Homo sapiens: one gene and its partners. The protein of the gene in region 3 interacts with the protein of the main gene of each other region in a biochemical or structural test. Each region holds a gene or a part of one and is shown on either strand. Other genes may lie near its edges.

The links.
Region 1: of the proteins of SGK1 (region 3) and MAPT, one has a biochemical effect on the other in vitro, tested with the Homo sapiens proteins (3 studies listed by BioGRID and IntAct).
Region 2: the proteins of SGK1 (region 3) and NHERF2 form a complex in vitro, tested with the Homo sapiens proteins (2 studies listed by BioGRID, with this or other methods).
Region 4: of the proteins of SGK1 (region 3) and PDK1, one has a biochemical effect on the other in vitro, tested with the Homo sapiens proteins (one study listed by BioGRID).

The regions. Positions count from the first base shown.
Region 1 is NC_000017.11:46,023,510-46,028,834, reverse strand, and holds the end of MAPT (microtubule-associated protein tau), read right to left. Parts: intron 4,880-5,325; coding exon 4,664-4,879; 3' UTR 3,719-4,663; coding exon of another isoform or gene 3,647-3,718; 3' UTR 501-3,646; downstream 1-500. UniProt on the Homo sapiens protein: Promotes microtubule assembly and stability, and might be involved in the establishment and maintenance of neuronal polarity.
Region 2 is NC_000016.10:2,036,862-2,039,530, forward strand, and holds the end of NHERF2 (Na(+)/H(+) exchange regulatory cofactor NHE-RF2), read left to right. Parts: coding exon 1-20; intron 21-93; coding exon 94-137; intron 138-676; coding exon 677-739; intron 740-895; coding exon of another isoform or gene 896-925; exon of another isoform or gene 926-964; coding exon 965-1,123; 3' UTR 1,124-2,165; downstream 2,166-2,669.
Region 3 is NC_000006.12:134,259,104-134,266,147, reverse strand, and holds part of SGK1 (serine/threonine-protein kinase Sgk1), read left to right. Parts: intron 1-3,999; coding exon 4,000-4,215; intron 4,216-7,044. UniProt on the Homo sapiens protein: Serine/threonine-protein kinase which is involved in the regulation of a wide variety of ion channels, membrane transporters, cellular enzymes, transcription factors, neuronal excitability, cell growth, proliferation, survival, migration and apoptosis.
Region 4 is NC_000002.12:172,559,079-172,566,122, reverse strand, and holds part of PDK1 ([Pyruvate dehydrogenase (acetyl-transferring)] kinase isozyme 1, mitochondrial isoform 2 precursor), read right to left. Parts: intron 3,904-7,044; coding exon 3,832-3,903; intron 3,383-3,831; coding exon of another isoform or gene 3,323-3,382; intron 2,013-3,322; exon of another isoform or gene 1,993-2,012; intron 1,621-1,992; coding exon 1,436-1,620; intron 1,146-1,435; coding exon 1,050-1,145; intron 1-1,049. UniProt on the Homo sapiens protein: Kinase that plays a key role in regulation of glucose and fatty acid metabolism and homeostasis via phosphorylation of the pyruvate dehydrogenase subunits PDHA1 and PDHA2.

The DNA of each region.
Region 1 (5,325 bases), on a different chromosome or scaffold from region 3:
CTTGGTTTAGCAGAAATACTCCTCAATCTATAATAAGGTACCAAAGGAAAGAAGGCAGCTCTGCAAACCTAGCAGGAATCTAAGCCATTCATTAAGCTGATTGGCTTGGTGTTCTGCTCCAGCCCCAGGCCTCTGGACTAAATTTCCAGGGATGAAAGATCCCATATCCTCATCCCCAACCTTCTCAGGTTTGCATACACTGGTGCCGGTCTTGCAAACTGAGTGCTGCATCGTGAGGTCAGCCACAAGGCTTTGTATTGCCCTTTGAATGGGACTAGGATGGTTTGCCAGCATCACAAAGAAGCAACTGCAAATGAGCAAGTCTGAGAACTCTCACCTTCAGGGCCCCAGAGAGAGCTGTTAATCCTGATGTCCAGCTTTTATTAATACTATCATTTCCTGTTCTGAGCTAAATTATCTAAGGGTGCGTGGGAAAGAACTTAAAAAATAGACATTCTATATGACTTTCTTGTCCTTGGAATCCATGAATGGAGACCTTATTTAATCAGAGTAATAACTTTATTTCCAAATTCACTTTTACAGCAACAGTCAGTGTAAATCATTTGTTAAAACACACAATACACTATATAGACATTCACAGACAGAAAGCTAAGCTAAGATGATTTCATGTCCCTCCCCCCACCCTCAGAATTACCGAAGAAATCATGGGACTTGCAAGTGCCAGAAATAGTCCTGCTCAACATGGCAAACTCATGGGGCTAAGTCTATTAGGAGGTGAGGCTCTAGGCCAGTGCCCAGGGTAACCCTTTTCAAAGCTGAAGAGAAATCAGAAGTTTTATGAAGCTGCAGGTCTGTAGATGGGACACGCAGGTGATCACCTCTGCCCTCGCCCCGACCTCGTGGCTTTACTTGGAGAACAAAGATGAGGAGGGTGAAGCGAGTGATCTCAGCTCCAAAAGCACAGGCTGTGTGTCTGGAGCCAGTGTGAGAGGTGGCACAGAGGTGCCAACGGCTTAGAGGGAAGGATGCCAAGGTCTTAGGGAGGCATGATTGTGGGCTTAGGACCCCTGAAAGAGGGCAGCAGGCCAAAGCAACCAGATGTCCATATTCCTACGCCTGCACCTGGCTGGGGAGGGAATGAACTAGCCAGCTGCCTGGGAAAGCCTGTCAGTGGAAAAGAGAAACCCCAAGGGCCTCTAACTCCGTGGCTGCTCCCTCCCTCTAGCAAATGTGGTTGAAATCATGAAAAGGGTTACGAGGCAGTTTAAGTGCTGCACCCCAAGATCTCCCTTTGCCCATGTTAACTATCTTACACATTCCTCCCCCCTCCCCCCATAGCACAACAAGCAATAGCAAACAGGATACAGTCTCACCACTGAAGTCAATTTAAATGGAACTATTGATAAAGTGAGTCAGCAGCTTGAAGGAGCCGGCATACAGTATATCCTATCTAGCCCACCCAAGGACACTGGCTCTGCAGGTGGGAGAAGTGAGGGGAGGGGAGGAGTGCCCAGCCCTGGGGGGATTGTCCTCATTTAAGATCACAAGCCAGCGTGCCTTTTCAATTTATCTGCCAGCACTGATCACCCTAAACCATGATCTTAGGCTGGCCCCAAGAGCCTGCCCCACAAGGGGGAGATCCCAGAGCCTTCCGTATAAGAAGGCCCATGGTGCTGAAGAGCAGGGCACAAGAACTTCAGGAAGAGGAACCGAGGTGCGTGAAGAAATGCAGCCGAAACTGTTGGCAGTAATGAGGGGGGCATATCTCTAACCACCACCAAATCTACCCCACATTTCCTTCTCCTTCTCAGATCCCTTCAACTTAGGAGAATTGCTGGGACTCAGCGAACGGCAGGGAGGCTCTTGGTGGAGAGTTCTGGGCCCAGAGACTTCCTTTCAGGTAAAGCTCTAGCTGCACACGAAGCTGCCAGCCCCAGGGGAGGCCCTGGATTTCTACTGCCAAGTCCCTCAGGGTTGCCTTTAACTGTACCCAAACCAGAAGTGGCAGAATTGGGCCTGAGGCTGCTGAGTTTCTTTAGGCAGCAATGTTTTGCAAAGGCGGCTTCCCTTTTCTCATGGCAGCAGATGGAGTTTGTGCAAGGTCAGCGGGCTGAGGTGCTCTGGTCAAGGCTTTGGGAACAGTGTCTCCTGACTTGTCAAGTCATCCTTCCTCAGGCAGGCAGCTTGGGCCTCTAGAGCAGATCCAGGACAGGCAATTCATCCCAATCCCTGCTGTGGTCGCAGGGCCCTTGGTGGGAGGCTGCGCTGCCCCTCCAGAGGGCGAGCTTGGAGAGGAACCCAGTCTGAGGGGTGGCTGAGGCTCACGGAGCTTCTGGGAGCTGCAGATCCCCCCAGCTGGCAGTGGCTTCCTTTTTCTTGTGATGCAGGAGTTGTAAGCCTCCTTTGGGACTGCCATGAGACTTCGGGCTATGACCAGAGAGAACCATCCTCGCGCCGCAAGCCAGACCAGCCACAAGACCTAGTCTGTGCCCTGACACAGGGAGCCCCAAGGGGAAGTAGGGAAGGGGACATCATCGCTTCAGTCCTAATCCTGTGCTTCAGGCCTTCGTCACAGCTGAACGGCCTCCTTAGCTGCTAGAAGCTGGTCTCTGTTGGGTCCCAGGTGCTGAGGAAAGCCTTTCAAAACTTGGGAGGCCCCAGCAGGGTGGCACCACACAGGCCACACGAGTCCCAGTGTGGGGGTGAGAGACACCTCGTGAGGGTGGGTTAGAAACCTCTTTACAAGCATTTCAAGATACATGCGTCCTTTTTTTTTTTTTTTTTTCTTTTCACTATCATAGTCACTCTGGTGAATCCAAGCATAAACAGACAAATCCAACTACAACTCAACAGGGTGCAGATGGGGAGGGCAGGGCAACATCTATGTATATGTTCAGCTGCTCCAGCAGAACAGACAGCATGGCTTCCAGCTGGGACTGGGGGAAAAGAACCATTTCCAAGGGGGTGTGTTCCCCTTTGTCGGGTGTGGAGGGCTGATACTATGCATGTGGAGCTGAGCAGCGGGCTGGGCTGTCTGGGAGGTTGGCAGCTACAAGCTAGGGTGCAAGTGGGGGACAGCGGGACTGTGGGCCTGCCCTGGGTGCCTTGCCCTTCCATCCTGGTGCCACCACTGACAACCAAGACACCCAGCCTGCTGCTGTGGGCTCAGCACAGGAAGGGGCCAGGCCTTCTCAGGGGAAAGGGCTCTCTCCATGTCAACAAGGCAGAAACACCTAGGGTCACAGCTGAGCAGTGCCCTGGCTCACATCTGTGACGGGAGGAGGAGACAGGGAACCGAATCAGATCATGAGATTCGTGGTGAGGGTCCCAGTTGGATGAGTGGAACTGAGAGTGAGAGGCTGGGGTCCCACTCTTGTGCCTGGACTTTGCCTTCCCTTAATTTCACCCTCAGTATGGAGTAGGTACCTCCTGCAACCAACCAGGGTCATTACTGAGAAGGGGTGGTGAGGCTGGGAATTCGGGACATTGTGACGTGTGATGAGGGGTATAGGCAGTGATTGGGCTCTCACGGCAGACAACAGCACAGCGGCGCAGACGGGGTGACTGCAGTGGCCGTGGGAAGGACAGGGGGCTCGGGACCTGCCTCCCAGACCCCCACACACTCCAGAGATGCCAGTGGCCCAGGCTTGGAAACGGGTGGACGTCTCCCAAGAGGCACAAGTCCTTACAAAGAGAACTGGTTAGCCCTAAAGTCCCAGGTCTGCAAAGTGGCCAAAATCATGGCAGCAGTTCCAACCTTCAGAACTCAATAAAACAGGGTTTCTGTGGAGCAGAGGGAAGCCCCTCAACTCAGGCCCCCTACCCTGCAGGGAGGGAGGAAGAGGCCAGCGCTCTCAAGACATCAAGGTCAGTCTTTTCTAAGGAGGTCATCCACGAAGTGCCACCCTCCTGCCAGCTTGCCTTCTCTTTTTACCCGCTGTCCCTTCTCCCACAGGCTGCCCTGCAGAGGGTGGCACACTGACCCACAGCAGGCCCCCACCCCCGGCCACCAAGGACAGGCGGCCGCTCAGACGCTGCAGGTGGCATAGGCCTTGGCTCTCCCAGCGGCAAGGAGGGGGATGTCTACTCTCCAGCACGTGGCTTCCTCTCCCACTCCCACTTCTTGTGCTTCCTCTCCCCTCTGCCCAGCCCCTGCCTCGGCCTCCCCCGTGGCCTCCCGCCCCACCCCAACCCCCGTCACACTCACACAAGGTTGACATCGTCTGCCTGTGGCTCCACGAACACACCAAGTTTCAAATCCTTTGTTGCTGCCACTGCCTCTGTGACACCCCCACAACAGGGCCAGAGGTGGTTGGCACCCCCAGTCCCTTGAAATCCCCCAGAAGCAGCTTTCAGAGCCTCTCCTTCTCCCTCTTCTACATGGAGGGGGAAGAAAAAAGAATCAAAAGGAATTGCCTGAGGAAATGTTGGATGTGGCCATGTTTTTGAATGTTTTTTTTTAAATATTTTATTACTAGCCCACCCATCAATTTGGAAAGATGAAATTTGCTCTTACTCCCATCACTGATTTTGAAGTCCCGAGCCAAAGCCGAGTGACAAAAGCAGGTTAAGTGATTAACCAATTAACCGAACTGCGAGGAGCAGCTGGGGGCAGAGGGCGGGGGCCGGGTCATTATTCTTTTTTTTTCCACACTCTCTCATTCTCTCCTCTCCACAATTATTGACCGCCCCAGGGGCCTGATCACAAACCCTGCTTGGCCAGGGAGGCAGACACCTCGTCAGCTAGCGTGGCGAGCTGGGGCGAGTCTACCATGTCGATGCTGCCGGTGGAGGAGACATTGCTGAGATGCCGTGGAGACGTGTCCCCAGACACCACTGGCGACTTGTACACGATCTCCGCCCCGTGGTCTGTCTTGGCTTTGGCGTTCTCGCGGAAGGTCAGCTTGTGGGTTTCAATCTGCAAGAAGAGGAAGGGAGGGAGGGTGAGATGAAGTGCCAGAGAAAGACCAGCCCTGCCAACTGCCCTGCCAGGCCTGGCCCAGAGTGCCAGGGACTGTTTTTTGTTTGTTTTTGAGACAGGGTCTTGCTCTATCGCCCAGGCTAGAGTGCGGTGGCACAATCTCACCTCACTGCAGCCTTGACCTCCCAGGCTCAGGTGATTCTCCCACCTCAGCCTCCCGAGTAGCTGGGATTACAGGTGCATGCCACCACACCTGGCTAATTTTTTGTATTTTTAATAGAAACGGGGTTTTGCTATGTTGCCCAGGCTGGTCTTGAACTCCTGGACGCAAGCAATCTGCCCGCCTCAGCCTCTCAGAGTGCTGCCATTACAGGCGTGAGCCACTGCGCCTGGCCAGGAGCTGTTGTTTTTATTGTCTTCCAATTGGTAATACCTGTGCCCAC
Region 2 (2,669 bases), on a different chromosome or scaffold from region 3:
CACCGAGGAGCACGTGGAAGGTGGGCCACGGCCCAGGGCACAGGGTGGGTGCGGTGTGGTGGCTGAGCAGCCACTGACACGCTGTCCCCACAGGTCCTCTGCCGTCACCCGTCACCAATGGAACCAGCCCTGCCCAGGTAAGAGGGTGGGGTGCCCATGAGACACAGGGTGCCTCTGGGGGTACCCAGGCCCGACAGAGGCCCCCTTCTCCCTGGAGATCCGTCCTCGAGGTGTGCTAGTGACACCCGATTTTAGCCCTGTCACCTCCCTTTAATGCCCCTGTGGGTCTCATCCTGGGTCGTGCCACACACAAGCCACGTGGGGCCCCTGGGGTCGGGGCCACTGCCTTCTGTCCTCTCCTGGGCACCACCTGGTAAGGAGTTGCCCTCCAGTCTCTGCCTCCTCAGGGAGCTGGCGGTGGCCTCACCCCAGGCGTTGCTCACGCCGGCCATTCCTGCACCTGAACCCCCTCTGCACCATGAGCCGGCCAGGCCACCTGCCTGTCACTGCCAGGCGCCCGGTGCCTGCCCCGCCGCATCTGGAGTCCACCAGAGGCCCGAGGCCCCCTGCCGAGTGGAGGAGCACACACTGGGGGGGGGTGTGCCTCTGTGCACATGTGTGCGTGTGCAGGTGTTGTGTGTGTCTGTGAAACCACAATCTGCCCTTGGTTTCCCAGCTCAATGGTGGCTCTGCGTGCTCGTCCCGAAGTGACCTGCCTGGTTCCGACAAGGACACTGAGGTATGGATGTTCTCCACTCCTGAGCTCACACGTGGGGTTGCTAGAGGCCTTGGGGTAGGCGTCTGTGGAGATGTCAGCCCGGGCAGTGGGGTCTCTGTTCAGGAAGTCCTCGTGAGCCCCAGCCCCAGCAGGCAGCCTCTGTTGGTTGCTCCCTAGGAGGGGCCACCGTCTGGGGTGTGGGACTAGGGCTCACTCCAGACACCCCACCCACCGTGCTCACCCCAGGATGGCAGTGCCTGGAAGCAAGATCCCTTCCAGGAGAGCGGCCTCCACCTGAGCCCCACGGCGGCCGAGGCCAAGGAGAAGGCTCGAGCCATGCGAGTCAACAAGCGCGCGCCACAGATGGACTGGAACAGGAAGCGTGAAATCTTCAGCAACTTCTGAGCCCCTTCCTGCCTGTCTCGGGACCCTGGGACCCCTCCCGCACGGACCTTGGGCCTCAGCCTGCCCCGAGCTCCCCCAGCCTCAGTGGACTGGAGGGTGGTCCTGCCATTGCCCAGAAATCAGCCCCAGCCCCGGTGAGCCCCCATCCTGCCCCTGCCCACCAGGTACTGGGGGCCTGTGGCAGCAAGATAGGGGGAGAGAGACCCAGAGATGTGAGAGAGAGTCAGAGACAGAGACAGAGAGAGAGAGAGAGAGACACAGAGAGAGACAGAGAGAGAGCGAGCGAGCGCGCGGCAGCCGCGGGGCGAGGGCCTTTGCTGCTCTGCCGGGGCCTGCTGACTGAAAGGAATTTGTGTTTTTGCTTTTTTTCCAAAAAGATCTCCAGCTCCACACATGTTTCCACTTAATACCAGAGACCCCCCCCCTTCCCCTCCCCCTTCCCCTCCCCCTTGGGACGCGCTCTAAATAATTGCAATAAAACAAACCTTTCTCTGCAAACCATTTCCTCCCCGCCCCCTCCCCTCAGCAGCGGCCGTCCTGAGTGGGAGTCCCTGGGACTTCCCAGTGGCCAAGTTGGGGCGCCCAGCCTCTTCGTGGGGACCTTGGGTAAGGCCAGGGAGGCCTGATGTGGCCGTAGGAGCTGCCCCTGCCCACCTGCCCTGGTGTGGGGGTCCCTAGGCCACACCCTGCTCCCCACCCAGCTACCCTGTGCGCCTGTGCCCTGCTGGGGGCCTGGGCTCTCCGAGGGGCCTGAGGATGGAGGCCCCACGTCCCCGAGGAGGGCGGCCTCTGGACAGGCCCCTCATTCCGCGCGGCAGCTCCCAGGCCTGGGGAACGTAGGTGTGTGAGAGCGGCACCCGGGAAGGACGCCTGGCCTCTGGCTCAGCCCTGCTTGGCGGGCTCCCCCGTGGACACCCTGTTGACTTTGCACTTCCCTCCCGGGCCCCGCACCCCCGAACCGACCACCGATCGACCGGCACCGCTGTTGCCTCGTAAGCCATAGCGCATGCGCGCTCTCAGGATAAACAGGCCCTGCCTGGGACCCACACGCCTCTGTCTTTTCTGAGCCTCCTCCCCGTGGGGTGAGAGGGGTGGAGGGATGAGGCTGTTTCAGGGAGCCCCCTCCCCGAGTCTCAGCAGCTGGAAACGGTCTCGTTCCTGAGCCCGTGCCCTGCATCCATCTGCTCCCAGCCCTGCTCCATCTCCCCCGCTGACCCCCATGGGACCCCCTGCTGTGTGGCACATCCTGGGCCCATGCCCATCTCTCTTATTTGGCAGACTCAGCCTCCCACCTTCACCTTCCCTGTGAAGCCATCCGGCCCCACACAACACCCACACGGGCCACCCTTTGCCCAATTCACCCTGCGACCTCTAGCAGTCACAGGTCAAGCTTTGTACCCTGTGGCGCCCTGCCTGGGTCCCCAGTGTCCCTTTCAAGGCCGGGTAGCTCTGTAAACAGGGGTGGGACCCTGGCAGAGGCTGGGCTTTGAGGGCATGAAAGTTCAGGAGCTGGCGGTGTCCGGGCTGGGAAGCTGGGGGGCCGGCG
Region 3 (7,044 bases):
CTGGGCGTGGGGGCACGGTGCCTGTAATTCCAGCCACTCAGGAGGCTGAGGGAGGAGAATCACTTGAACCAGGGAGGAGGAGGCTGCAGTGAGCTGAGATCGCGCCACTGCACTCCAGCCTGGGTGACAATCAGAGACTCCATCTTAATAAATATAAATAAATGAATAAAGAAATAAATAAATAAAGCAATTAAAAGACACTTGTGGCTGGATGTGGTAGCTCACGCCTGTAATCCCAGCATTTTGGGAGGCTGAGCTGGGAGGGGAACACTTGAGCCCAGGAGTTCTAACCAGCTTGGCTTGACCAACATGGTGAGACTCTATTTTTTAAAGAAATGTATATATATATATACATTTATGATTCTGATAAAATATTATTCTTTTAAAAGTTAAAGTACGAAGAGTTGTAAAAACAGATAAAACACCCATGATACTAACAATAAACACAGCAGTTTCTATTTTGCCTCTTAACTCTCCTACTTTATGTCTATAGTGTTTCTGTGTATATATATATGTATATATATATATGTATATATATAAAATATATATGTATATGTATATATGTATATGTATAAATATATATGTATATATATAAAATATATATGTGTATATAAAATATATATGTATATATAAAATATATATGTGTATATATATATTTTTTTTGTTTGTTTGTTTGTTTGTTTTTTGAGACAGAGTTTTCACTCTTGTTGCCCAGGCTGGAGTGCAATGGCATGATCTTGGTTCACCACAACCTCCACCTCCAGGGGTCAAGCGATTCTCCTGCCTCAGCCTCCTGAGTAGCTGGGATTACAGGTGCCCAACACTACACCCAGCTAATTTTTGTGTTTTTTGTAGAGATGGGGTTTTGTCATGTTGACCAGGCTGGTCTTGAACTCCTGGGCTCAGGTGATCTGCCTGCCTCGACCTCCCAAAGTGCTGGGATTACAGGCGTGAGCCACTGCACCCGGCCTATAGTTAGTACATATGTTTTTACATTTGTGATTATAGCAATTAAACAGTTTTGTATTTGGCTTTTCTCATATAATTATGTTCTAAATATTTTTCATATTTTCACAGTCTTCATAATACTTAATTTTAGTGATAGCAAAATATTCTATCAAGTAATATAATAAATTGCTTAAACATTATTGCTATTGCAATTTTAGTTTATCCTCAGTGTTTTTTAAAAAGTTAATTGCAGGCTGGGCATGGTGGCTCACACTTGTAATCCCAACACTTTGGGAAGCCAAAGTGGGAGGATCGCCTAAGGCCAGGAGTTTAAGACCAGTCTGGGCAATATAGCAAGACCCTGTCTCTACAAAACAATTTAAAAATAATTAGCCAGTCATGGTGGTGCACGCCTGTAGTCCCAGCTACTTGGGAGGGCTGAGGTGGGAGGATCGCTTGAGCCTAGGAGGTTAAGGCTGCAGTGAGCTGTCATCGTGCCAATGCACTCCAATCTGGGGAACAAAACAAGACCCTTTAACAACAACAACAACAAAAATAATAATAATAATAATTGTAGCATCACTAACTAAAATTCAGTACTGTGATTTTACTTCTTTGTCCTTTTGCTATAGGCTAATTTCACTAATTGGTTGAATATAAAAGAATCCTCAGGAGTTTTGAAGAGCATGAAAGTGAAATAGTAAATCAAAATAAATTTCAAGCACCAGTGACCATAAGTCTTAACAACACTTCAGTGCTTCTTAGAAAATTGCATGCTCATGGCCAGGCGCAGTGGCTCAAGCCTGTAATACCAGCACTATGGGAGGCCAAGGTGGGCGGATCATGAGGTCAGGAGATCGAGACCATCCTGGCTAACACGATGAAACCCGGTCTCTACTAAAAATACAAAAAATTAGCCAGGCATGGTGGCAGGTGCCTGTAGTCCCAGCTACTCGGGAGGCTGAGGCAGGAGAATGGCGTGAACCCAGGAGGCAGAGCTTGCAGTGAGCTGAGATCGCGCCACTGTACTCCAGCCAGGGGCAACAGAGCGAGACTCTGTCTCAAAAAAAAAAAAAAAGAAAGAAAAGAAAATTGCATGTTTATAAACTCTGGATTCAAGGTGCCTGGATCCCGCCTTTACTCCATAACAACACTGTGCCCTGGGGAAATTTGCTTCACATCTCTATGCGTTTGTTTTTCCATCTGTATAATGGGATTGAAAATAGTACCTTTCTTATAAAACTTTTCTGAGGACTAATTAATTAATTTTTTATTCTTCATTTACTTATTTATTTTCTTTTGTAGAGATGGGGTTTTGCTATGTTGGCTAGGCTGGTCCCAAAATCCTGGCCTCAAGTGACCTGCCTGCCTTAGCCTCCCAAAGTTTAAAGTGCTGGGATTACAGGTGTGAGCCACCTCACCCTGCCTGTTCTGAGGATTAAAAACTATACACATCAAACACTTTAAAAAGTGCCTTGATTTTTGAAATGCTGTATAAATACCATGCCTGTTAATATTAGAATAGCTTTATACTTCTTTCTGTATCTTATAGGGATTTTACAAGCAAGCAAGACAAGTGGTGAGTTTTAGAACTTTAAAAACAAACTTGAGCTAATTTCTTAGCCAGAAGCAATTTCTTTTATAATCAAAGTTGTGCAGTAGTATATATGGGCCGGATTCAGTGGCTCATGCCTGTAATCCCAACACTTTGGGAGGCGGGAGGATCACTTGAGCCCAGGAGTTTGATACCAGCCTGCGCAACTTAGTGAGACCTCATCTCTACAAAAAAAAAAAAAAATTAGTAGTGTGATGGTGCGAGCCTGTGGTCTCAGCTACTCCAGAGGCTGAGGTGAGAGGATTGCTTGAGCCCAGCAGTTCAAGACTGCAGTGAGCCATGATTAGGCCACTGCATTCCATCCTGGGTGACAGAGGAAGATCCTGTCTCAATAACAATAATAATAGTGAATATGTATTTGCTTAGCAATGGATTAGATTGTAAACTATGAGATTAGTATTTTCCCTTGTAAGAATAACTAGTAATTCACCTTAGAAATGTGTGAACTAAATTTCTGTCATCATAATCATAATAATAAGGGTCAAAGTAAAATAGTCACTATCTATTGGGCACCAAACATGTGCCAGGCAAAGTACTTGAACATTGTAAAACATGGTAGCATTTTCACAGCTTGGGAGGAAATATTATTACCTGAATCTTACAAATGAGGAGACAGGCTGGGCACAGTGACTTATACCTGTGATCCCAACACTTTAAGAGGCAAAAGGATCTTTTTCTTTAAAAAAAAAAAAAAGTTATTTTTTTCGTAGAGACAAAGTTTCGCTATTTTGCCCAGGCTGGTCTCAAACTCCTGGGCTAAAGCAGTCCTCCTGCCTTGGCCTCCCAAAGTGCTATTTAGATATAAACCATCTCGCCTGGCCAGGGTAATTGTTTTTGTTTGTTTTTGGGTTTTGAGGGTTTGTTGTTGTTGTGTTGTTGTTGTGGTTGGAGACAGTCTTGCTCTGTCACCCAGGCTGGAGTGCAGCGGGGCTATCTCAGCTCACTGCAACCTCCGCTTCCCAGGTTCAAGCGATTCTCCCAAGCAGCTGAGATTATAGGCGTGTACCACCAGGCCTGGCTAATTTTGGTATTTTTAGTAGAGATGGGGTTTCATCATGTTGGCAGGCTGGTCCAGGAGGATCTTTTAACACCAAGACCAGCCTGGGCAACAGAGTGAAACCCCCCTATCTCTAAAAAGAAAAAAATTCTAACCCCACTGGAAGCAGGAGGAAAAAGAAAAGAAAAAAATAATGTGAAAAAAAAATGCGGAGACAGACTCAGCAAGATGAAATGACCAGCCATGTAATGCATACTCTAGGAAAGAGACTGAACAGCATTGACCAATTCGAATTGTGTTGAGTTTGAAAGATAGACAGGTTGTGAGACCGAGTTCTCCTTTCATGAGCTCCCATCCCACCAGATTTCCCACCAAATCCCCAATAAACATCAAAGGGAGTCAAACACATTTGTTTTTTCTTTCCTTTTGCACATTGCAGGTACGAAGGTGGATCAAGAGCCCAATGGTCAGTGTGGACAAGCATCAGAGTCCCAGCCTGAAGTACACCGGCTCCTCCATGGTGCACATCCCTCCAGGGGAGCCAGACTTCGAGTCTTCCTTGTGTCAAACATGCCTGGGTGAACATGCTTTCCAAAGAGGGGTTCTCCCTCAGGAGAACGAGTCATGTTCATGGGAAACTCAATCTGGGTGTGAAGTAAGTTCATGTTCGCTCTGGATCTATTCTCCTGGAAAAATTCTGGGCCTTTGTTTTTCTTGTATTTCTGCCAGAGTATACCCAAAAAATAATTTTTTAATGCATATTTATAAAGCTTCTGAGGAAGACCTAGAATTGTGGTCTTTGTTAGCTCATTATGTTATTTTTTTAAAGTAGGCTTTATATTTTAGAGCAGCTTTAAGTTCACAGCAACATTGAGCAGAAGGTACAGAGATTACCCATATACGCTTGTCCCCATGCACGTATAACCTACTTTGCCATCAACATTCCCTAGCAGAGTTTTATGTTAGAGTTCACTCTTGGTGTTATACATTCTATGGGTTTGGACTAATGTATAATAACATGCATCCACCATTACAGTATCATACAGTTAAGTTTCACTGCCCTAAAAATCCTCTGCCCTCCACTATTCATCCCCTCCTTACCCTGACCCCTAGCAACCACTGATCTTTTTACTGTCTCCATAGATTTGCCTTTTCCAGAATGTCATCTAGCTGAATCATGCAGTATGTTGTATTAATGTTTTACGTGGGTCCAAGACTGATACAGCAATGTGTTGGTAAACTGGCAATTCCTCAGAAGTGGTTTGATCACACAGGAGATCAAGTCTTAGATGATACAACGATTGTAATAGTCATCTACATGTTCGTAGCTTCCATTGAAATATTTAGTTCAACACGATTTGATCCATTTACAGAGCACTATGTATACTTTTCATTATTTTTCTCAAGCTCATATATACTCACATTTTTACTAAGACTTATTTTCCCTGCTACTCCAAGAGTTGTTTTTTAAAAATTTTGTTAATCCAAGAAAACCAGATAACTGATTCATCTTGCAGTTTCTAAGATTTCAAAAATTTAAGATTATATTTTTAACTTATAACTTAATTAGGCCCATATTTATTTTGATTTTTAAAACCATTATATAAAATGCTTATATTATTTTTACCATCATACTGACATAAAAATACAATATTTAGAAGACAGAACATGTTATTACAAAGTACAGTTAATTGTAAGTGATCTTCCAAGTCAGTGCATCATAGAATGATAAACGTTAATAACCGCTCACCTTTTTTATTTTTAGCAAGGTAACCATTTTCCAGAGATAAAATAATCATTTAGCTGCTAAAAGACTGAAGACATTAAATCTGAGTTCCTTTTCACTCTGAGTTATCACGCAATGTCGCTGAATCTGTTTCATAATTTGTCTACTTTCTTTCTTTCTTTTTTTTTTTTTTTTGAGTTTCACTCTTGTTGCCCAGACTGGAGTGCAATGGCACGATCTCGGCTCACTGCAACCTCCGCTTCCTGAGTTCAAGTAATTCTTCTGCCTCAGTCTCCCGAGTAGCTGGGATTACAGGCACCCAACACCACGCCTGGCTAATTTTTGTATTTTTAATAGAAACAGGGTTTCTCTATGTTGGTCAGGCTGGTGTCAAACTCCCAACCTCAGGTAATCCACCTGCGTCGGCTTTCCAAATTGCTGGGATTACAGGCATGAGCCACTACGCCGGCCCTTTTTTTGGGGGGGGTGGGGGTCGGGGACAGGGAGACAGGGGGACAGAGTCTTGCTCTGTAACCCTGACTTGAGTGCAGTAGTGCAATCATAACTCACTGTTACCTCAAACTCCTAGGTTCAAGTGATCCTCCCACCTCAACCCTCCCAAGTAAATAAGACCACAGGCATACGCCAACAAACCTGGCTAATTAAAAAAAAAAAATTTTTTTTGTAGAAACAGGGTGTTGTCATACTGACCAGGCTGGTCTTGAACTCCTGGCTTCAAGTGATCCTCCCAAAATGCTGGGATTATAGGTATGAGGCACAATGCCCAGCCTACTTGTCTACTTTCTACGGTTATTGGAAAAATCAAATGAGATTGATATGAAATGTTTCATAATCTATAGAATGCCATGCAAATATAAATCATTATTGCTCATGTTTGCTGATTTACATATTAGCTAAGCCTGTGACTCTGTAACACTATATTAGACTTCCATAACTGGGTTAGCACTTTGCTGATCCATGAACATTTGTCATGGTGCATTTGCTTTTTAGCCAGATGTTGGTTCAACTCTAGGTTTGTCATGAAAAACAATAAAGACGCTAAATGCAAGAGCATCTATTTATCGCTCCTGATGCAAGGGATAGAGTCAACTTTTTATCTAAACGGCCAGATAGTAAATATTTTAGCCTTTGCCTAAAATACAGTCTCTAACTTCTATTTAGCTCTGCCCTTCTAGGGAAAGCAGCCATAGATAATATGTAAATGAATGGACACAGCTCTCCCAGGTTGGAGTGCAGTGACGAGATCTCAGCTCACTGCAACCTCCACCTCCCAGGTTCAAGCAATTCTCCTGCCTCAGCCTCCTGAGTAGCCGGGATTACAGGCATCTGACACCACACCCGGGTAATTTTTTTTTTTTTTTTTAGTAGAGATGGGGTTTCACCATGTTGGCCAGGCTGGTCTTGAACTCCGGACCTCAAGTGATCTGCCTGCCTCAGCCTCCCAAAATGCTGGTATTACAGGCCTGAGCCACTGCGCCCAGCCTGAGTTTGCCAATTTCTTAGACTCTAAAGAACTATTTATGACTTAGAAGCAGAGAGAGGGTTCTACATATCCTATACAGAGCACACATGCCTAGTGCTAAATGTTTACTTGAGGGCCTACTCTATGTCCCATTTGATAGGAGCTGGGTTTAAATCAATGCAACAGTGAAATTCCACACAAAAGGAAACAATAAACAAAGCTGAAAGGAATTTAAAGCAACATTGTGATTTACCCTTTTCCTTTATCTTAGATAG
Region 4 (7,044 bases), on a different chromosome or scaffold from region 3:
ATCTATGTAACAAAACTTAAGAGTTGGTTAGGAAACACTCTTATCCATTGTTTGAAACCTTTTTGGAGATACCAAAATTTTATATGCATTTAAATGTTTTTAATTCTAGGAATCTCACCTCTAAAATACTAGCAAAAGTGAGCGTGTATTTAAGGATGTTCACAGCAGTACTGCTGGTATTGGTGGTAACAGAAAAAAATTAAAACAACCTAAGTGTGCATGAACAGGAGAATTAATTAACACATACTGATACATTCCATAGAGCCATTCAAAACCTTGGAGCATATCCAGATGTACTGAACAGCAAGATGTCTGTAAACTTGTAGAAAAAAACATAGAGCACCCCATTTTCTAAAAACAACAATGTAAGACCAACATCAATTGTGTATGTGTACAAGTGGTATAAATAGAAAAAAGTGTGAAATGATTCAAACCAAATTGTTATGAATTACTGCTCATAGTGTAAGAATTAGAAACAGGGCAGTAGGGACTTCAATTCTTTTTTAAGTGAAAGATACCCTCAGCTGGGCTCGGTGGCTCACGCCTGTAATCCCAGCTCTTTGGGAGGCCGAGGCAGGCAGGCAGGCAGGCAGGAGTTCCAGACCAGCCTGGCCAACATGGTAAAACCCTGCCTGCACTAAAGATACAAAAATTAGCCAGGCGTAGTGTTGAGCATCTGTAATCCCGGCTACTGGGGAGGCTGAGGCAAGACAATCGCTTGAACTCAGGAGGCAGAGGCTGCAGTGAGCTGAGATCACACCACTGCACTCCAGCCTGGGCAACAGAGTGAGACTCTGTCTCAAACAAAACAAAACAAAACAAAAAAGATATCCTCTATAGTATCACCAAACTTTGCCTAACAAATAATTCTATCAATAAAATAGTCATCCTATACATAATGCACAAATAATACTATAAGGTTATTTTCAAACCCATGCATTTGTGCCTACCATTTTATCTCATGATACAAATAGATGTTTTAATAGTAAGAAATAACAATAATTTTGATTTTTGTATCTTTTTTTGCAAGGAGAAATGTCAGTATTTACCTTTAATAACTTCAAGTACATTGCAGTTTGGATTTATGCTTCCAATGTGTTTTCGATGAGATGGACTTCCTTTGCCTTTTCCACCAAACAATAAAGCTATCCAAAAAGGAAAAAAACCAACAAAATAAGCTAAACCACCTAATGCTCTTTTCCAAATCTGAATACTGTTTAAATTGTACCAAACAGAACAAATATTTTCCTTTAGGATAAACATAGTATTTTACATTCAATAAAAACACCTTTCTTGATGGCAGTCTATTTATTTTTCTTAATTAGCCAAAAGGTAAAACTAAATTTCCTACCTAAATGGAACTTTCCTAAATAAATTTAAAATATGCCAACACATCTCATTTAGCTTCTTCTCTTGACTCATGAGGGACACTTACAGTGCTGATTGAGTAACATTCTAATTGAAATGCGACTCATGTAGAATCGATCCAAAAAGTACTGAACATTCTGGCTGGTGACAGGATCCACCCCAAAGCTCTCCTTGTATTCAATCACACCCTGGGCCATTGTGGGAATGACATCATTGTGTCGGTTTCTGATCCGTATCACAGTATCTGTAAAGCTAAACAAACCCATCTGTCAAAACAGCCAAATATTTTGACAAGTAAACTTAATACAAAAATATAAGCTTAACCAACTATGCTAGACAAAAAATCCCCAATTTAATAAAAGGAAAATCGGTTCATGTTTTCCTATACTTATTTAAATGTATTTCAGATCATAAAATATACCAAATCTATGAAAGTATACAGACCTCCAAAATAAAACTTTCAAGATTTAATTCTTTTCTTGGCTTCCTAAGAGTAAGGCTGCCACAAAACGTAATCCAAAAAATGTTAATGGTTTTAACTGTTATCAACTAAGGTCATCTGAGCACTGGCTAAGAGGATGGTATTCCAGAGACATTCTGCATAGGAGGAGACAAAGCACTTGCCTCTAGAGAACACCTGCTCTGCTCTGCAAGGAATCAAGATGAATGAGCCAATAAAGCCTGCCTGTTTTGGACCTATTCCCTAGGGTTCAAAGAGAGAAGGAAACACTTAGGACAGAAAAACAGAAAAGAATTCTCATTTCACTCATCCTATGAGTTTATAAAATGGGAGAGGAAAAGTAAACAATTATATTAAAAGACAAATCTTCAAATCATCTAGTCTTCCCATCTCTGTCACTTAGAAGACACTGCATGGTTAAATAACTAAATAAAAGAGAAAATAAGTCTTTTTTTTTTTTGAGATGGAATTTTGCTCTTGTTGCCCAGGCTGGAGAGCAATGGCGCAATCTCGGCTCACTGCAACCTCCACCTCCCGAGTTCAAGTGATTCTACTGCCTCAGCCTTCCTGAGTAGCCGGGATTATAGGCATGTACCATGATGCCTGGCTAATTTTGTATTTTTAGTAGAGACAGGGTTTCTCCATGTTGGTCAGGCTGGTCTCGAACTCCCGACCTCAGACGATCCGCCCGCCTCGGCCTCCCAAAGTGCTGGGATTACAGGCGTGAGCCACCGTGCCCGGCCCAAGAAGTCTTAATTATGCAGTAACGAAACCAATTTTCTAACATAACCCATCTGAATTTACACTTCCAAATGAGTGCTTTCCTATTCAAAGTCATCATCCTGAGTACTATTAACTTATTCCAATGATGTTTCCACTGCTTAAAACATTTTTGGAATTCCTAGTTAGTAATGCGCTTCAAAACAAGACTGTTAAACTAAAATACAAACAACAAAACTCTTCAAAAACAACAAACAACTCATCATTCTAGTCACTCCTTTATTATTTTCTTTCTGCTTCAAAGAAACACAAATCTGTATTATTCTGCTTGACTACTTATTTTCCACAGCTCTGAATGACTGTTTTCAGAAGGCTCTATAACATAATGTTTACTTTTAAAGTAAGACTGCTTGGATTCTACCATTTGCTAACTATGTAACCTTAAACTACTTACCCTCTTTGTGCACAAACAGCATTATTTCAATGAATTGTTTTAAAGATTAAAAAACATCATTCATGTAAAGTCTGCTCAATACCTAAGCAAGGAGTAAACTCTTGCTGAAGTTATTTTCAGATTAAAATCATGTTTAAAAAAATGAAGTGTTACTGTTCACTTTAAAGACAGTCCAAAAAACATGTGTAACTAACTGAGGACAAGAGATGGTCATTACACTCTCAGTACCCTTCACTGCAATAAGCAGGTAGCTGCATAAGGCAAATACTTTGGTTTACCAATTCTGGTATATGGGTTATTAACATTGTCATATTACTTACATCATCTTGCAGGCCATACAGCATAAACTAGAGACCTGCAACCATGTTCTTCTAGGCCTTCTGTGTTTTAAAAAATGTTTTAATTAGTTACCAATCTTTCAAAAGTGAGAGATTTTACATTACAAATCTAGACTTGTAGCTTTCCTTTAAAATCAGAAAACAATCAGATGATATGGGCAGTATTTTCATATGGCAAAGATCAGCTGGGGCTGAAGGTGGTTGTCCATTAGAAGGAGCATGCACCCTCCAGGTGAACAGTCCAACTGGCACTGAGGCCACACCTACATTTCCACTGATCATCACACCTGAACTTTGTCTTTTGTTAAAGAGGAACACGAAGCATTTCTTATGCCTAGTCAAATTTGCTGATTGTTATTTGTCCTGCCTGTATGGGCTGCTACAGTCACATATATCACATGTTCTAAAGTAGTAGAAACCTAAAAGTTAACCAATTTCCCCCAAGTGACCTAATAATAGGTTTAAGAATAGGGTCAAAATAGTGAACTTACTCATAAATAGCTTTAGCATCCTCAGCACTTTTGTCCTTAAAATCAAGAAGCTCCTGAAGACTCTGGATATACCTAAAATGCAGATCAATAGGATAAGTTTGTTCTTTTATATTCTGAAAGTTCAATATCATGAAAATTAGCTCAAAAGCTATTTTTAGCATTTTATAATTTTTAATTTAGAATACTGCTATAAATTATGGTTGAAGTATAATTTTTACACCCATGCACATTCAAGCAAAGTGCTGGGAATGAATGGTAGAAGGTGCACATTTTCTCCTAAAAGCAAAGGTCAAATTTAAGAATTTTAAGATTTTCCGAGTTCTACATTCTAAAATGGCTTTTAATTTTTTTTTAATTTACCACTGTACATTACAGTATATATACTGATTATGCTGAGATCTGTCACCAGTAACTATGTGATCTTGGGCAAATGACTTAATTTGTCTTATTATCAGTAAAAGGAGGACAGCCTCTCTTGCTCTAAGACTGTATCTTAAATATCTGTGCTTTAAAACCTTAATTTTACATATTTATGTCCAACTAACAAGTATTTATTGAAAGCCTATAATCTACATGGTTCTTTTAAACTGAACAAAAAACACAAAAGTCATAAAAATGTACATTTTAAATTTATCTAACAATTCGAAGTATCAAAGCATCTGTTAAGGAATGAGCAAAATAGAGAAGGCCAAATGATTTTCTGATGGTCTTGCAGGCAAGTACAATGGCACTGCGGGGCCAGAGCTAAAAATAACTTGCTACCACTGAATTACTTTCTTCGACAGTGTAAGGGATCTGCTCCACTTGGCTGTAAGCACTTTATCTGCAACTGTCCTAACTTAGCAGGCATCTAGGAGCAATGGAAGTGCTTTAAAAACCTGTAATTCCATCTGTTGGTTTGGAAAGCTGTTTCTGACAAGCAATATGTCTTACTGCATTCCAAAGTTAAGGGATTCTGATAGCAGCTGCTGCTTTGCTTTAACCCTTAATTTCCTCTTAATTGGCAAGAACAACTACGCTCTCCATCCAAGAGATATTTGAGTACCTACAACAGGCACCGATCAGACCTCATGACTGATAAGCTTCAAAAAGCAGCATATTCTACTTCTAATGAAGAATTTTTTAAAAACAGGAAAAATCTTCCATGGAATATTATATTTTCTCCATTATATCCCATCATAATTACTAAACAAATGCTTCCCATTTAATCCACACTTATAACTATTCCATACTTGGACTAGATAGCATCTGATTATCATATATATAGCAGTCATATTTTGCTTTTTTAAATTGCGATTAGATCAACTTCTCCCATACGCTATAATGCTTACAAAAAGAAAACTTGAATCTCCATGAATCATAACTGGGAAATGCCCTGCAGCTAAACCTTTTCCATTTAAGACTTAACTCTGGGCAACTCATTTGTTTGAAGCATACAGTGCTTAAAAGAACAACACTTTTAAATCAGTAACATTAATGAAGGCTGTATATAGGTGGCTCCATGAGTGTATACCCTTAACATCTCTACTTATCTTTGGGAAGAGATCACACTTTTTCTACACAATTCCAAAAACTTCTAATTGTTTTAAAACAGAAAAATAAACATTTTAACTTTTGTAATTTATAAAAAGATACCCTTCAATAAACACAGTTTATTAAAAATACATATATCCTTTCATATATTTCATCATTCTGACTATAGCACGGTATAGCAGAGATGGACAAATGGGGGTTTGAATCCCAACTCCACTATCAATGGTACTGTCTTACGCAAAAGATTTAACCTTTATGTGCCTCAGCATCCTCATCTGTACAGAGTTAACCTGCCAGGTGCGGTGGCTCATGTCTGTAATACCAACACTTTGTGAAGCCAAGGTGAGAGGACTGCTTGAGCCCAGGAGTTCACAACCTGCCTGGGCAAAAAAGTGAGACCCCCATCTCTACAAAAAAATAAAAGAATTGGTCAGGTATGGTGGCGCATGGCTGTGGTCCCAGCTGCTCGGGAGGCAGCTGCCTTAGCAGGAGAATCTCTTGACCCCAGGAGGTCAAGACTGCAGTGAGCCATGATCACACTACTGCACTCTAGCCTGGGTGATGGAGACCCTGTCTCTAAAAAGAAAATAAATTAATTTAAAAAATAATAAACAGGCTAGACACAATGGCTCATGCCCATAATCCCTGCACTTTGAGAGGCCCAGGTGGGCAAATACCTTGACCTCCGGAGTTTGAGGCCAGCGTAGGCAACATGGAAAAACCCCATCTCTGCTAAAAAATACAAAAATTAGCTGGGTGTGGCATGCACTTGTGGTCCCAGCTACTCAGGAGGCCGAGGTGGGAGGATCACCTGAGCCAGGGAGGTGGAGGTTGCAGTGAGCTGAGCTGTGATCACCACTGCACTCCAACCTGGGTGACAGAGTAAGAACCTGTCTCAAAAAAATAAGTAGGCCAGGAGTGGTGGCTCATGCCTGTAATCCCAGCACTTTGGGAAGCCAAGGTGGGAGGATCACCTGAGGTCAGGAGCTTGAGACCAGCCTGGCCAACATGGTGAAACCTCTATTTCTACTAAAAATACAAAAATTAGCCAGGCATGGTGGCAGGTGCCTGTAATCCCAGCTACTCTGGAGGCTGAGGCAGGAGAATCACTTGAACCCAGGAGGCAGAGGTTGCAGTGAGCCAAGATCATGCCATTGCACTCCAGCCTGGGCAACAGAGCAAGATTCCATTTCAAAAACAAAAAGTAAATAAAAATAATAACAATGAATAAAATGGAGAGAATCATACCCACTGTGCAAGGTTGTTGAAGGGATTAAAGGCAATATACATAAATACCCAGTCATCAACAAATTGCAGACATTTTTTCTTATAATATCCTTGAAGATATACTAACATAAATCCTAAATTTAGCATCTGTATTTCAGTGCAGTTTTGACTGGCTTTCTCAAAATCAAGAAGTTGTGGAGTCCACGATTCAGGGCACAAGCCCAAATACATTGCCCCCACCTGCCCCCAGCCAAAAAAAGAATACTGCTACTACCTTAAGACTCTGGTCGGGCACGGTGGCTCACGTCTGTAATCCCAGCACTTTGGGAGGCCAAGGTGGGTGGATCACGAGTTCAGGAGACCGAGATCATCCTGGCCAACATGGTGAAACCCTGTCTCTACTAAAAATACAAAAATTAGCTGGGCGTGGTGGCACGTGCCTGTAATCCCAGT